Linked DNA regions of Homo sapiens: region 1 is linked to region 2. The links come from fine-mapping of genetic effects on gene expression. A gene starts in region 2. The other region holds a variant in brackets. All regions are shown on one strand. Distances are between the middles of the regions.

What was found. PIP is the estimated chance that this variant, and not a neighbour inherited with it, causes the effect. A credible set is the group of variants that fine-mapping cannot tell apart.
Region 1: its variant is the best candidate, but not a certain one, in a credible set for the expression of KY in spinal cord (GTEx, PIP 0.54).

The regions. Positions count from the first base shown.
Region 1 is chr3:134,669,985-134,675,362 of GRCh38, forward strand. It overlaps a transcript of CEP63 not described here. Among named protein-coding and RNA genes, the nearest start is that of KY, 22 kb to the left of the region's middle. The variant A/G (reference allele first, on the strand shown) is at 2,074.
Region 2 is chr3:134,648,608-134,653,985 of GRCh38, forward strand. KY (kyphoscoliosis peptidase) reads right to left here and starts at 2,415. Exons shown (of 11, transcript NM_178554.6): 1 at 2,218-2,415. The coding sequence starts at 2,353. It also overlaps a transcript of CEP63 not described here.

The DNA.
Region 1 (5,378 bases), 21 kb after region 2:
AAGAGACCCTGAGAGCTCCCTTGCCCTTTCTGCAATGAGAGGTTATGGTGAAAAGTCTACAGCAACCTGGAAGAGGGCCCTCATCAGAACCCCACCATGCTGGGACCCTGATCTCAGACTTTCAGCCTCTAGAACTATGAGAAATAAATTTCTGTTGTTTATATGCCGATCAATAATAATTTACTATAGCAGCCTAAATTAAGATAATAATCCAAATCAAATATGATTTTTGAGGCTCTCTGAGCTATTTTCACAGAAAGTTTTACAAGCTATTTGCCTCCAATATGAACACACTCTTCCCCAAACCACACACAGTCCCTTTGCATATAAAATTTAAATTTTGTTAAAAAAAGAGTTGCTAGCTATGGGGGTCCCTGATTTGATGAAAACACTTGAGGAAATGCTCTGGGGGAATCTTAGATGGTCATAGTCAGAGCCTCCAGTGTGAAGAGAACAGAGTGGGGATCAATGGAGAAAATAAGGCAGTGTCCCATCATTGCAAGGAAGTTCCTTATGGAGTCAGCCAGCCATGGAACAAGAGATGATGCTGTTGAGAATAAATGGTAAATTCCTAACTCTCACATTAGCAGGACAGTGAAGTCTGATGACACCATGGCTGGCTGTGGATGAATGGACTACTTAGAAACTGAATATAAACTGTTACCGTAATTTTGGAGAGCTATTTGGCAACATCTGATAAAACTGAAAAGTGTATACCTCATGAACCAGGTCAGATCATGTACATGGTTGCTTATCACAGCAGAGTTCATAAAGCTTAAAAATGGGGAAATGTCTATGGCAGGAGGTATTGTATAAATCATGGAGTCCTCCCATACTGTATACTGTAGAGCAGTTACAATGCACTAGATCTACATGGAAACGTGTGGATGAACATCTACAACACAAAACTGAATGAATTAACTACAGTTAGAAGGATATTATAGTATGACATCATTTAGCTATAGTTTTAAAACATGCAAAACAATATATATTGTCTACAGATACATACATTTGTGGTAAAAGTCTAAAAAATGAATAGAATGCACCACAACTTCAGAATAGTGTTTCCTCTGGGGCGGAAGGGAGAAGAAGGCATTGGAGAGGGATTCATAGAGATCATCAATACATGTGTCATATTTACTTTTTAAAAAAGATCTGACTACACAGCCATAAAAAAGAATGAAATCATGTCCTTTGCAGCAACATGGATGCAGCTGGAGTCCATTATCCTACGCGATCTAACTCAGAAACAGAAAAGCAAATACTGCATATTCTCACTTATAAGTGGGAGCTAAACAATGGCACACATGGACATAAAGAGGGGAACAATAGACACTGGGGCCTCCAAAAGAGGGCAGGGTGGAAGCGGGCTGAGGGTTGAATGATCACCTATTGGGTACGATGTTCATTATTTGGGTAATGGGTGCATTAGAAGTTCAATCCCCACCAGTACTGCAATATACCCATGTAACAAATGTGCACATGTATGCCTTATCTAAAATGAAATAAAATTAAAAGAAAATCTGAAGCAAACATAGAAGAAAAATGTTGACCTTTGTTCACTTCCAGTGGCGAGCATGTGGGTATTTGTGATATTACCAACTGTACTTTTCTGTATGCTTGAAACATTTCATAAGGAAAATAATAAATGTGCAAAGACATAGGAAAATCCAGAGTCCTGCTTTTAAGGAAGTGTTTAAACAAAAAGCTGCAGGAGTGTCTGCTGCTGGGTACAGTGAACAAATGCTTTCTACACAGGGGTGGCAGAGTGGTGGGGGTGGCCTGAATGAATGAAAAATCAGAAAAAGGGTTTGAGCCCTTGCCCTGACTCTCATGGCTTTTGGGACATTTTAGTTGGTGGCGATGTCCACCAACTGAGCTGTTTTCTCATCTGTGAAATGGGTTGCTGTGAGCCAAGGGAGGCAATGTGTGTGGATGTAGGTGGGGAGCAGTGAGTCACACACAGTGAGGGTGAGGACCTGGGCTGGCCAGAGCTGTCCTCCAGAAACCTGCAGTGATAGATGGTTGTCAAGTAATACCTCAACAAGTGTGTAGGGTGGAGTGTTGAAACCA[A/G]TTTCAAAAATGACTCTCCTACCTCTCCAAGGACCGCCAAACCCCATCTGTAAAAAATGGGGTACACTGATTATATCATTGGCCACCAGAGTCAGATTGAATTCATACTATCACCCAGTCACTGCCATGTGTTCATGTGTCACCTCTCTGAGTTTTTTCTTGCAGCTAAAAATGAGTAATAATAGTAGCATCTGCCTCGTTAGGTTATTCTGAGGAATAAATGAGATTTCACATATAAAGTGCTTAGCACAGACCTCAGCACTTAGTAAGCTGTCAGAAAATGTTAACTGGTTATTGTGACCATTGTTACTTCTGGGTCTGAGCCTAAAAACAACTACCAAGAAACATTTTGCTAGCTTAGATTCAGTGATATTTATGACTTGAAAATAAGGCCAAGGAGAATATGGTTGCTAAATTCAAAATTGTCATGATTCTGGTTTATTTTCTTCCTAATTAGATATTCTGTAGCTTTTATAATTATGCCTCTGAAAAAGGGGGAAAGGCAAATAATCAGAAATCTGGCAAAAGGCAGCTGATTTTGCACCTCTTTCTTGAACACTCTCATTCCGGGGGCTCCCAGTTTCGTCATAAATGGCTTCTCTTCCCAATCTCTCCCTTGCCTTCTCTCCATGCTGGCTCTTGTCTTCCTCTTACTGTTGGTCCCTTCTGTCCTGGCTCTCTACGTACTCATTCTGTCTTCTGGCTTCAGCTCCAATTATGTGTTGGATACCTGGCCCCTTGCCCCAGCCCAAGCCTCCATCAACCATTGCCTGGACCATGTGGTAGCTCCCTCCCCATCTCGCTCCACAGCACAGCAGAGTGAGTGTTTAGCAATGCAGCTCTAATCATGTCATGTCCTGGCTTACGTTGTTTCAATAGTTTCCCTTTACTTATAGGATGAAGCTCCAATCCTTGGTAGGACCTGTAAGGCCCTGCATGGGTGGTCTTAGCATCAAGCCTGAGCTCTCCCACCCTTCATAGTACTTCCACCCCTCCGTGAAAACTCCAGGATTCAACTGCCCTGAATGAGGTGGATCACATTCTCTTTTACTCTTCATCAGGTCTTCAGGAGTAAATTTTGTGCCTTTGTTCATACCTAAAGACTGTAATCATTAAGGAGATACCACCATCCATCAAGAACCTCGTCCCAGAACCCCTGACCTCTGTTAACTCCAGTGCTTTTCACTCATCCTGTCCTAGAACTACCTCCTCTCTGAGATCTTCTCCAACCACAACCTGACGTCCCCCCTCCAACTGTCTCATGGCCTCATATAGAAGCCATTGGACTTCCTGGAGACCTCCAGTCCTGAAGTCCCACCCTCCTCCCTGGCCATCAGCTCCTTTTGGCCTCTCTTCCTTCCCTGCAATGCGTGGTGCCTTCAGTGGTCCATCAAAATGGCTCTCTCACTACCTCCCAGGATTCTCTCATATCCCTCCTTCTGCCACACACGCCTGACAAAACATCAACCCTGGCTCAGTGTGGCAGCCAGCCTGGAGAACAGAACATGGCCCGCCCTGAGGGTCAGGACCTCCAGTAGCAGCTGGGCCCTTGGTGCTGCCCTTTGTCCTTTTGTGTACCCTGGATTGTCTCATCTCCATTCTTCTCTGGAACACCTGAAACCTTCATCCCTTTCCTTCTGAGTCCTCAATTTAATCCCTTCCCCATCCCCTCCACCAGCAGATGACCTCATCTCCTACTACTCCTGCAGACCACCTACAGACTTATGCACAGGCACACCATTCTCTCCCTTCTGCAGGACAACCCCAAATCTGGGCTCATTGGCCACATTCTGTGGTGAGCACCCGTATTTTTGCTACCTGTGGTCTATCAATCACTCTTCCGGTAAAACAGAGCCCCAAGGTTTATTTGGGGGCCCACCATCTCTTACTCTGATCCCAGGTTTTCCTGAGGTTAATCCTATGTCCAGGTCCATGTCTAAACTAATCAGCAAAATTCATTCCATTGGACACAGTGATTAGCTTGTGGTTGTGCACATGAACCAATTTGGATCAATGAGAACCTGACCCTGACTTTTAGTGTACTGTTGGGGTGAGGTGTACTGTCTTTCCTACAGAACACAAACTTCCAGCTGTAGAAAGTCATCTCATAGTGTCAAGAAGTGAGTCTGTCATCAACAAAATATAGGCAAACCAAATCTGGGAACATATAAAAAGATAATACATCATGAAGAAGTGGGATTTATTCTAGGAATGCAAGGTTGGCTCAACATAAGAAAAGCAACAACTGAAATATACCATATTAATAGAATAAGGACAAAAACCACATGATCATCTTAACTGTTAGGAAAAAGCATTTGACAAAATCTAACATTATTTCATATTAAAAACACTCGACAAACTAGGAATATAAGGGAACTTTTTTAATTTGATGAAAAAAATCCATGAATATCACACAGCCAACATAAACTTAATGGTAAAAGACTGAAAGCCTTCCCCCTAACATTTGGAACAGGACATGCATATCTGCTCTTACCATTGCTACTTTAAGAAGGTTCTTTTCAGGGAAATTAAACAAGAAAAAGAAACAAAAGGCATCCAAATTGGAAAGCAAGAAGCAGAACTAATTGAAGATGATATGATCTTATATAATAAAAATCCCAAGGAATCCATGAAAAATCATTAAATCTAATGAGTTTAATAAGGTAGCAGGAAACAAGATCAATATATAAAAATTAATCATTTTTCTTTACCTTAGCAGTGAACATTCCAAGAATGAAATCAAGAAAGTAGTTCCATTCACAATGGCATCAAAATGAATAAAATACTTAAGAATATATTCAACAGAAGAAGTACAAGGCTTGATACTTCAAAAGATCTTCAAAAGAAAAGGCCTTTAAAAATGAAAAACATTCTATATTCATGGATTGAAAGATTTCATATTAAGATCCCCAAACTGATCTACAGATTCAACACAATCCCAATCAAAACCAGCTGCCTTTTATTGTAGAAACTGGAAAATGCTGAGCATAAAATTCATATGGAAATGTAAGGGACCCAGAACAGCCAAAACAATGAAAAACAACACAATTGGAGAACTCATACTTTACAGTTCAAAACTTACCACAAAACTTCAGTAACCAATACTGTGTAGTCTGGCATATGAATAGACAGATAGATAAATGGAATAGAATCAAGAGTCCAGAAATAAACCCATACATCTATGGTCAATTGATTTTAAACAAGGGTGTCAAGACAAACAGGGAAAGAGTAATATTTTCAACAGACGATTCTGAGACAACTGGATATCCACATGGAAAAAAAATGAAGTTGAACAACTGTCTCAT
Region 2 (5,378 bases):
GGCCTTACAGAAATGGGAGAGAACATCTGCTGGCTCTGCAGCCCAAATTCCTAGTGACCTAGCCTGTCCACACTCTCCTTGCCTTCTTGTCCCCCTGACTCTTTTCTTCCAGCAGAAGGGCCACTTCCAGCAGAAGGCCCTTCCAGCAGAAGGGCCACTCGTTACGGATTACTCCATCCTCTGCATTGCAACAATAATTGAGCTTTGATCTTTTCTGACATGGAGCCTAGGCCCTCTTTTATATAACCAAGGAAGATCCACTCTCCAGTGGAGGATCTGGAGTGTGGAGGAGAAAGGAGGAGATACCTGGAAGTGAGCAAGAGTTTGTTTTATATCTTGCACCCATGGGAGGCTTTGGAACAAGCTGGTCTTATTGGGCATTTTCCTCCCTTAGGCTGTTTTTCGAGGAAAGGGTCTGCAGGCTGGCTTTGCCTGGGGTCTCCTGAATATCATCTCTGCCCACCAGGCATCAAAAGCCATGCACTTTTCCTCTTCTCTGCTCTGGTTGTGAATAAGTGACACAGATCTCTACACTGTCATTCATAGCATCGGTGAGAAACGGCCATCAGAAAAATATTTGGAGAAAAAGTTCAGCAGAAAGGGCCCAGCCATTAGGGGTCTTTTTTTCTCTGTCATAGTCACTAGTGTGCATACATGAGTCTGGAGCCATGGCGAGTTTGTGCTAGGTGTTGGGCACCTCTCAGGGCAGTCCTGATGCCTGGTGTTTCCTGGGCTTCTCTGCATTCTTTGCCCTTTCTAGTGTCAGAGCCTTTAGAAGTGATGTGATCAGAGAGGATTGGGAGTAGGGGACTCGTGGGCTGACCTGGAACTAGGCCTCGCCACACACTGGAGAAGGCATTCTGGACTGTGGTACATGTATTCAGAGCAGTCTCATTTCTATCAAGAAGTTGATGCCCTCTGTTGACTTTCTAACTACAAATACCCTGGGCAGGCCATTTCCCCTTCTCCCAAGAGTAGGTCTGATAACTAAAGAGCCAACGAATCCAAACAACTCCTGCTTCAGTCAGGAATCAGCCCTGAGACTAGAGCGCCTGTCAACATACTCAGCCCTCTAGATTCTGTTTCTTTCCCCTGCCTGCCTTCCCAAGAGGTTCCCAGGGCTCTGGAGGCAGCTCCAGCCTATGTGGCTGGTAGTGGCAAGGCCATCCACAGCAGCATTACTTAAGCAAGGCAGGTGGAAGGTGGATGTTCAATGAGCACAGAGGCTCTGGGGACAGAAGAACCAAGGGCAGAGCAGCAGCAGGAATTCCAAGGAGCTCCAGAGCTGGAGGGGAGGAGAGAGGCAGAAGTCATTCTCCTGCATGGGCTGTCAGGCCTAACTCCTAAAGAACTGGCCCGCAGTCCGCCTAGTGCATCCTCACACCAGCCTCGGAGACAGCTTGCCATCCAGGACCCTGAGGTTCTCTGGCTTTTCAGGGGCTTATTTAACCTCCATTATCATCCCTCTGTACTCCATTCACATTGTGTTCTGTCGTCTGGAGAACAGAGAGGCCCGGATCCTGCTTTCCACAATCACTCTATAAACAGTCACTTTATTTTACCAATCTACAACTTACAAATTTACCCAGAAAGTGTGTAGGACAAGTAAAATTGATGGATAAGTTCAAGTGGAGACAGCAGGTTTCAAATCTTACCCTATCCAAACCTGCGTTCCTTTTACGCCTTTCATGCCTTCCATCTATAGGAGGCTGGGAGAAAGTCTCAAGAAAGGAGAAACTGAGGCTGTAAATTGTGCAAGGCCACACAGGGAGCTCCCCATCTAAAAGTCTGACTCAGCCCAAAGGTTTCCCAGCGTCCCCTGTGCCCTGCAGTGTGCTGTGGGGGGGAGCAGGCCTCTGCTACCCATGAGTCAGCCCTGAGGCTCTGGCCGCCTTCCTCCAGGGTATCTTCCAATCTTGCTCTACACCCGTTAGGGAGTGGCTGGGAGGAAAAAGACTCCCAGGGGTGACGGAAGCACCCACAGGCCTGCACAGGGAGTGAAACTGGGGCAATCACGGGGCTGCGCGTTGCCACGGGACTGCGCGTTGCCACGGGACGCCGGTGCCACTGCGGGGAAGCGACGGCAGCCATGGGGGAGAGGGTCGGGTTCGCTGACCTCGTTCGGGGGAGCAATGGGCGCCCCCCGGCGGGCAGGCCCTTGTGGCAAGGAGGCCAAGGTGCCGGGGGACCCGGGGACCCGGGTCGGGCGCGCGTTACCTCCTCCGCGCTGCAGCAGCGAGCTCGGGTTCGCCTGCTGGTCTGAGAGCGTACCCTGTGCGGCGCGCCGCTTCTCCGAGTGCACGATCAGCAGCATGTCGATAGATACAGCGTTGATGTCCTTCTTCAGCTCCATGATGCCGCCTCCTTTCCGACCTGGGCGCCGCGGCCGCACGCTAGGCTGCTTGCGCTGCAAATGGCCCCGTGCGCGCAGCTGCCCCACACGGGAGAGGGCGAGGGCGCGGAAGAGGGCGCTCCCCCGCCGCTGGAGCCGCAGGGCGCTGCTTTTCGCTGACTCTGCCAAACACGCCATTAGGGCCCGCCTGGGAGGGCGCTACCCTAATGAAGCGGCTCTAAGTCACCTTTGAAAGGAAATCCCCGGGCCCAAGCCTTGACCTGCACCGGGGCCATAGTCAGCAGGGGCGGCCGGTCCAGAGCCTCCCTCCCTGCGCCCCTGCCTCCCGCCCGGTGCACTTGAAGCGCTGGTCCTGGGCTCCAGGGCTTCTCTGGCTGAGCGCTGCCTCATCCCCACGGTCTCCGGAGGGTTCTCGAGAGGGCTGGAGCCGACCTCCCACGAGAAGCCCCTGGCAAATACAGAAATCGCACAGTGCTGTCAACATTGAGAGTAGATTCAGGAAAAGGAAAGACAGCAAAGGGGCTCCAGATTGAATTGCAAGATGTGCAGAGATTGTCCAAGTTTTGGCCTCGACCTCACTCCTTCCCTGGGTTGGTTTTGGAGGTTGACAGCTCTCTCTCCCTAGGAGGGAGTTGGGTGGGGTGTTGGAGTCAGGAGCTCCCCCCAGTTACGGCCCCTGTAGAACTTGGAACATGCCCATTGAGTATCAAGCTAACGATCCTCTTTGATCTGAAACGAAAGTCTTAAAGTCTCGGTTCGTTCTAGAAGCCTGGCTCCTGCCCTGTGGGGAAGGAGGGAGGGGGAGAGGAGGAGGCTGGGGCACAGGGAGCTGGACCTGAGAAGCCTTCTATTTTTAGCCCGGCCTGGCCTGCCCAGCCAACAGCAGCAGGGGTTTGGCTGTAGGTCTCAGGAGTGTTTACATAGGCTTCTGCCTGGTACCCCTGGGCACTACGGGCCCACCCTGCTGGGGGCGTTCCCCTAATTCGAGTTTCTACTGTTAATAAATGCACCCCCACATGGAGGCCTTTGCTCTGGGAGCCCTCCCCGCATTGGAGTGTATGGACCCCACCTTGTAGCATGGTCCTGAGAGTTCCCAGATCCTCCTTGGAGCAGCCTGTGTCACACAGACTGCATTCCAGTACCAGCTCCATCACTTCCTGGCTGTGTGACCTTGGACCAGCCATTTTCCCTCCACCTTCTCACCCTTATCACTGGGTTGATAAAAATTTCTCACATGGCTGTTGTGAGAATGGCATGAATGTAAGGCGCCTGGTGTATAGAAAGTGGTCTTCATATGGTAGCTGTCATTCTTACTTCATTTTAAGGGTGAGGAAAGGGAAAGATGGAGTGACAAGTGACTGATGGAGCAGAGAAGCAGGAGAGATGTCACAGCCACACTCTGAGATTCTGAAGGTCTTCCTCCAATAACAGTGGCTCAGAGTTTGGTTCCGTGTAAAGGCTGTTGTCTTATTGCATTACCAGCGCCCCCCCCCACCACCCCACCCCCTGACTCACCCACTGGGCATCTGATGGAAGGAGAGGTTGTTGGCTTCCAGTAATGTTGAACTGGAGTCCCTAGAGAGCTGAGGCCATAGACAGGCAAGTGGAGATGGCTGACTTCCAAGGCAGGTTTCCTTCTGCTAAAGTGAGTCTTGTCCTGTCTGTATGTGTGCAGGTACACACACACACACACACACGCGCGCGCGCACACCTGGGAGGCTGGCTAACACTTACTCTCTATGTGGCTGGGGAAGTAAGAACTATGCATTATGCAAAGCTCTTGGGGTGTTGGAGATTGCTGAGGCAGATCTCAGGTCCCAGAGTCCCCCCAACTACCCTGGGCCAGTCAGTGTTGTCTAACTCCTTCAAGTGTCAGGTTGTCTGAAGTGCTGAAATCAACTAGAAGCCTGTGTACAGCACCCTTGGTTGCCGGATGGGTCTGAGTGTTGGTGATGGTGGGGGGAGCTGAAGTCCCCTTTCCTTACACTTGCATTCCCATCTCCCAACCCTTGCTCTCCTGCTGGAAAGTGTCATTGCTAGGAACTCGCAAACTCTGGTGCCCCCTCCCAGAACTGCCTCTGGAGAAGGATATTCTGACCTGGGAATGTGCTGCCAGGGGTCTGGGGAAATGGTGTGGAGGCCTCCTGTCTCTCTGCTATGTCTGAAGACAGCTTCGGAGCAGGGCCTCTCATCCTTGGCGCTATTGACATTTTGAGCCAGATAATTCTCTTTGGTGGGGCTTTCCTGTACACTGTGGGATGTCTAGCAGCATCCCTGGCCTCTACGCATTAGATGCCAATCACATTCACTTCCCTATTGTGAGAACTTAGAATGTCTCCAGACATTGACCAATGTTTCCTTTGGAAAGAATTGCAGTGTGAACACCGCTTTGGAGCAAACTCCTGAAATTGGAGTCACCTCGACTGCTCTGGGAGATGCTGCTGCCCCTGGATCCTGATGGTGCCTGACACCTAGACCCTCTTCTCAGAGGTTTACCCATGGCCATCAGTCCAACAGCCTAGCTTCTGGGGCCTGCCAGGAGCATAGATGAGATGCTCTTCTTAATGCCAACTCTATTCCCATCCTTGGCCTGGGTTGACTTAGCTGCTTCCCCTCTTCCCCACTATCCATTCTTGGGCTGAGAGGGAGACACCATGGGGAAGGTGATGTGGCTGAAGGCATTTGGATGTATCAGGAAAGGGGAAGGAGAGACAAGAGAACACTGAGGTGGCTGGGATATCATTCAAGTAGAGGCTGTATCCCTTCTGCTCAAATCCTCCCTCCAGCTGCTCACACAATCAACGGGACAAATAACAGAACGCTCAGCCTGCAAATCTCCAGACCCATCTCTTCCTTTTTCCCTACCAAACCCACACATGCTTCAACAGAAACCATGTCCTCTACACCCCAAACACACCATACTAGCCCCTCCATCCTGCTACCATCTTGAATAAAAAAGATGCAAGGCTCTCTGTATTCCGACCTAAATAATTAATCTGCATCCTTGTCTTAGTAGCTGACAAAC